2 separate regions of the Homo sapiens genome follow, and region 1 is linked to region 2. Evidence: fine-mapped expression QTL. A gene starts in region 2. The other region holds a variant in brackets. All regions are shown on one strand. Distances are from middle to middle. Region 1 has its middle 3.8 kb from the start of RAN. Region 2 holds the start of STX2 (syntaxin 2).

Evidence for each region. PIP is the estimated chance that this variant, and not a neighbour inherited with it, causes the effect. A credible set is the group of variants that fine-mapping cannot tell apart.
Region 1: its variant is the best candidate, but not a certain one, in a credible set for the expression of STX2 in atrial appendage (GTEx, PIP 0.82).

The regions. Positions count from the first base shown.
Region 1 is chr12:130,866,803-130,869,710 of GRCh38, forward strand. No RefSeq gene overlaps it. Among named protein-coding and RNA genes, the nearest start is that of RAN, 3.8 kb to the right of the region's middle. The variant G/A (reference allele first, on the strand shown) is at 1,733.
Region 2 is chr12:130,837,580-130,840,487 of GRCh38, forward strand. It overlaps STX2 (syntaxin 2), which reads right to left and starts at 1,671. Exons shown (of 11, transcript NM_194356.4): 1 at 1,491-1,671. The coding sequence starts at 1,520. RefSeq lists silencers at 1,235-1,294, 1,365-1,874.

The DNA.
Region 1 (2,908 bases), 29 kb after region 2:
CATGAGCCACCGTGCCCAGCCAAGGGAAGATACTTTTAAACAGAGGGACCAGTAAGTGCAAAGGCCCTGTGGCAGGAATAAATTTGGCTGGGGTAAGATACAGAAAGTCTTGTGAGGTTACAGGGAGAGAGGCAGGAGACGAGGTGGGAGAGGTAGGCATGAGCTAGAGCCCATAGTACCTCCCTGGCTACAGATTTCATGGATCTAAGTGAGACAGATAGAAAACTACTGCAGGTTTTACCAGTGGAGGAGGATGATCTGATTTTTTTTTTTTTTGACAGAGTCTCGCTCTGTCACCCAGGCTGGAGTGTAGTGGCGCAATCTCGGCTCACTGCAAGCTTCGCCTCCCGGGTTCACGCCATTCTCCTGCCTCAGCCTCCCGAGTAACTGGGACTACAGTCACCCACCACCATGCCCGGCTAATTTTTTGTATTTTTAGTAGAGACGGGGTTTCACCATGTTAGCCAGGATGGTCTTGATCTCCTGACCTCATGATCCGCCAACCTCGGCCTCCCAAAGTGCTGGGATTACAGGTGTGAGCCACCACACCCTGCCTCTGATATGGTTTTAAAAGATCACTCTGGGTCACATGCAGTGGCTCATGCCTGTTATCTCAATACTTTGAGAAGTTAAGGCAGGAAAATTGTTTGTGGCCAGAAGTTTGAGATAAGCCTGGGCAATGTAGCAAGACCCCATCTCTACAAAAAAGAAAATAAATTGCTGGGTGTGGTGGTGCCTGCCTGTATTCCCAGCTACTCGGGGGGCTGAGGTGAGTGGATCATTTGACCCCAGGAGCTCAAGGTTGCAGTGAGTCATGATCTCGCCACTGCACTCCAACCCTGGTGACAGAGAAATACCCTGTCACTACAAAACAAAATCCACCCTGTGCCTCCTGATCTGAGACACTAAGAAGGACACAACATCACTTTTGTGGTTTTCCTACCCAAACTGCATAACCTGTATCTAATCATGAGCTAGTATCAGAGAAATCCAAATGAAAGGACAGTCTACAAAATACCTGGCCTCTAAAATACTCTGCAAGGCCAGGCGTGGTGGCTCACGCCTGTAATCCCAGCACTTTAGGGGGCCCAGGTGGGTGGATCCCCTGAGGTCAGGAGTTTGAGACCAGCCTGGCTAACATGGTGAAAACCCATCTCTACAAAAAATACAAAAATTAGCCAGGTGTGGTAGCAGGCACCTGTAATCCCAGCTACACAGGAGGCTGAAGCAGGAGAATCACTTGAACCCGGGAGGCAGAGGTTGCAGTGAGCTGAGATCGCACCACTGCACTCCAACCTGGGCGACAGAGCAAGACTCTGTCTTGGGGGAAAAAAAATACTCAGCCGGGCGCGGTGGCTCATGCCTATAATCCCAGCGCTTTGGGAGGCCGAGGCAGGCAGATCACGAGGTCAAGAGACCGAGACCATCCTGACCAACATGGTACATCGTGAAACCCCGCCTCTACTAAAAATTCAAAAATTAGGTGGGTATGGTGGCGTGCGCCTGTAGTCCCAGCTACTCAGGAGGCTGAAGCAGGAGAATGCCAGAACTCGGGAGGTGGAGATTGCAGTGAGCCAAGATCATGCCAGTGCACTCCAGCCTGGCAACAGAGAGAGATTCTGTCTCAAAAAAACCAAAAAAAAACTCTGCAAAAAGTGTCAAGGTCATGAAAGATAAAGAAAGGCTGAAGGACTTGTAGATGGAAATAGACTAAGGAGGCTGACAAGCAAAC[G/A]TTCCATGCAATCCCGGACTGGATCCTAAACCAGGCAAATGGTGTTAGTGAGACATCTGACAGTTAAGGGTCGAGATTAGATAATCAAATTAGAGCAATGTTAACTGCCTGATTTTGATAAGTGTACAGTGGTTATGTAACAGAATGTCCTTGGTTTTAAGAACTGCACATCAAAGGGCATCCTGTTTGCCACTTACCTCAAACATTTCAGAGAAAAAAAGTCATATATATACACACACACCTAATTACGTCTTTATAAAATCACATATAGGTATATAGGTGAGATCAGCTGGGGCAACATAGTGAGACCCCATTGCTACAATAAAATAAATAAAAAATTAGCTGGGCCTGGTGGCACATGCCTGTAGTCCCAGCTACTAAGCAGGCTGAGGTGGGAGGATCACTTGAGCCCAGGAGTTCCAGGCTGCAGTAAGCCACTATGCTCCAGCCTGTGTGACAGAGACCCTGTCTCTAAAAAAAAAACTAGAGACTAAGGAGGCCTGAGAAACAAGTTAAAAGCGTAACATGCAATCCTCGACTGGATTCTTGTAGGGGAAAAAACGCCAAAAGGTATAAACACTGATGTTCTCATCACCCAGAATTATACAAATGGTTAATATATTGTCACCTTGCTTTGATTACCATTTTTAAAATTAATTTTCTTTCTTGTTTTTTTTTTAGAGACATGGGTTTCACCATGTTGCCCAGGCTGGTCCTAAACTCCTGAGCTCAAGTGATCCATCTGCCTTGGCCTCCCAAAGTGCTCGGATTACAGGCGTGAGTCACTGCACCCAGCCTGATTAGATGGAGTTTTGCTCTGTCGCCCACGCTGGAGTGCAGTGGTGCGATCTCTGCTCACTGTAAGCTCCACCTCCCGGGTTCACGCCATTCTCCTGCCTCAGCCTCCCGAGTAGCTGGGACTACAGGCACCCGCCACCACGCCCAGCTAATTTTTTGTATTTTTAGTAGAGACGGGGTTTCACCGGTTTAGCCAGGATGGTCTCGATCTCCTGACCTCGTGATCTGCCCGCCTTGGCCTCCCAAAGTGCTGGGATTACAGGCGTGAGCCACCGTGCCCGGCCCTGATTACCATTTTTTAAAAAAGAAATGGAACATTGCAGGTAAGGTTAAACTCTTCTATGACCTCTCTCCGCAGTTCCTGGGTGACAAGAGCGA
Region 2 (2,908 bases):
GGCCTCCTGCTAATTTTTTAATTTTTTTCGAGAAACAGTGTCTCCCTGTGTTGCCCAAGCTGGTCTCCAATACCTGGGCTCAAGTGATGCCCCCACCCTGATCTCCCAGACTGCTGGGATTACAGGAGTGAGCCACAGCTTTTCTTCATTAAATAAATACCTGAGCTCCTACTACACGGCACTGAAAGATAATCCATCGGGCAAGACAACACAACTATAATTTGCTGTGTTTAAGATGATATTGATCTGCGGAACACAGGGAATATTTGTCCATTAATAAAAAAGGAAAAATCACCGTGAAGAAACTTCCTTGGAATGAATATAAAGCATAATTTCCATGATCCTAAGGATGAAATCATTGCCTTTCTCAACCAGAGCTCCTCATCTGAACCACAGAACACAGATAATGATTTAAGTGGCTCTTTTCTCTATTCTCCCACTCGGGGGTACATAACAGCTCCATTCTAGCAGCAGAGGAGAGAGAATAATTCATTACATGCAGTGGGTGTCGTAGGGCTGTGGGCCTTAGCACCCCTGTTCTGAGGCTGCCAACAATTTAGAGACCAGAGGCTCTATCTGTGCACACACGTAGCATGAATTAGTACCTGTATTGTAAAGGGAAAAAGTCATAACTACTTCTGCTGGCCTAAGCCGTCCTGGGTTAGACAAGCTTGGAAAGTGCACGACCATCACTATCATTCCGCTGTCACTGCACCATGCACAGTCCTGTCACCTTTACACGTGTAGAATGCATCGAAATCCTTCCAAAATTTTTAGTGACCTGCTTTTCCCTTGCTAAAGTAAACAGTAACTTGCTGTGTGCCCGGCTGCTGGGCGCGTAAGGTGCGTTCAGAGTCAACACACGGTCCCAGTTTCCAAAGCAAACTACTGGGAGATCAGACACAAGCTGCTGTTCGCGCTCGCCCCACCCCAAGCACCCAGCACTCTAAGGTGCCCACATTTCACACCCATCTGTTGCCTCCCGCTTGGTGCACAGTCCTTTGTGAAGCCCCAGGGATAAAGCAGCGACCAAGAGGACCCGGCCTGCTCCCCGGGGCTGACGCCAGCTGCGGGGACCCCGTGGGGCGGACCACAGTTAGGCCAGTGGGCTCCGGCTGGGTAAGCGCCAGATACAATCCGCCAAGCGGAGTGACGGACAGGGAGCCACGCTCGAAGAGGGGGTCGAGGCCGGGACCTTCCCCGCTCCCTCCTCCTGCCCCAACCCGCCCTGAGGACTCCGCCCAGGAAGCCCTGGGGACCCCGCCCGGAGCCCCCACCCTAGGACTCCCGGGACCCCCGCCCTGGGGACCCCACCAGCAGTCCCCGCTCAGGACTCCCTGAGACCCTGCCCGCAGCCCCCGCCCCAGAACGCCGGAGATCCCCGCCCTGGGGACCCTCCCGGAGCCCCGCCCAAGACGCCCCGAGCCCCCGCCCGCCCTCCAGACGCCGCCCCGGCCGGGCCTGAACCGCTACCCGCGGCTGCCGCTCACCGCCGTCAGGTCTGGCAGCCGGTCCCGCATCCCCGCCGGCCGGGCAGCGCGCCCCGCCGCTCAAGCCTGTCCCGAGCTGCCTCCGGCCGGGCCTCGGGCTCTCCGGTCTCCGCCTCAGGCCCCGCGGTCCCGGCCCGGCGCCAGCAGCCCTCCCTGGAGCCGGCGCTGCCACGGCAACCGCGCCCCGCGCGCTCTGCGCATGCCCGGCCCGCGCCGCGCCCCGCACCCACCCACACGGCGGCAGCGCTTTCCAGCGGGAGCCCGGAGGGGCGGGGCCTGGGGGCGGGGCCTAGGCGGGGAGGGGCGGGGTCCGGCCGAGCCCCAGGCTGGCAGTTCCGCTACACGTGCTGTTTGTCCCTTGATCTGCTTTTATGCTTTCACACTCATTGTTTTATTTATCAAAATATAGAGCATTCAACGAATAGTGACAAAAGAGCAAAGCTCCCGGAATGTGCTGGGTGCAGCTTTGGGTAATACATATGCCGAACCTTCTCTTTAAGGGTCCACGCGCAGCCTCGGGTGTGAATGAAGGAGAAGAGATCGTGTACCACACATGATGCTTACGGAGCATAACACGGCAGGGGGCGGTAACGGGAAGAGCGTCCGCAGGCCCAGCCCTGGGATACCATTCTGGCAGGAGAAACAGGCAATACAGACACAGACAAATAAATGATAGATGAGAAAAGAAAGTAAGGGCATGGGCACGGAACTGGCAGAGAGGTCGTCATGAAGGTGCAGGAGCTTAGGTGAACTACCCAGGTTGGGGGAACAGTCCCCAAGACCATTATCACCTCTGACACCAACGGCAAATTCTGGCGGTTTCCAAAACCACCTTCAAGTTCCATAATTTGCTAGAAGGAATCACAGAATACACTAAAAACTACTGTACTCACAACTATGGTTTCTTAGCAGGAAAATGATACGGATTAACATCAGCCAAGGAAGAAGGGCAGAGGGGGAGTCTGGGGATTACGGCGTGCAGCTTCAAGGTCCTCCCGTGGTCCTCTCCCTGTGTAGTCAGGCCTCATTACTTGCCCTGCACTGATGTGTGGCCTTACACACGAAGTACTGCCAGCCAGGGAAGCTCACTTGAGCCACAGTGTGCAGAACGTTTACTGGGCTCCATTGCATGTGCATGATTGATTGATTGTTTGATTGCTTTCATGCTTGATCTCAGCCTCTTGGTTAAGTGATATCCATGTAACCCTAAGCCCCCACCATAAATCACACTGTTACTCTCTGGCTAGCCGAAGACTCCCAGGCAAACAAAGATTGCCTTCCAGGAGGAGAAGGCAAGGCCAGATTTGTTTTTAAACAAGGTTAAAGTCTTTACTGCCTCCTGGAGGAGGTGGCTTTGGTCTGACCAGAAGGCAGCGCTAAGAAATCTGCTTGAGAGCAACAGGCTACACATTAAAAAA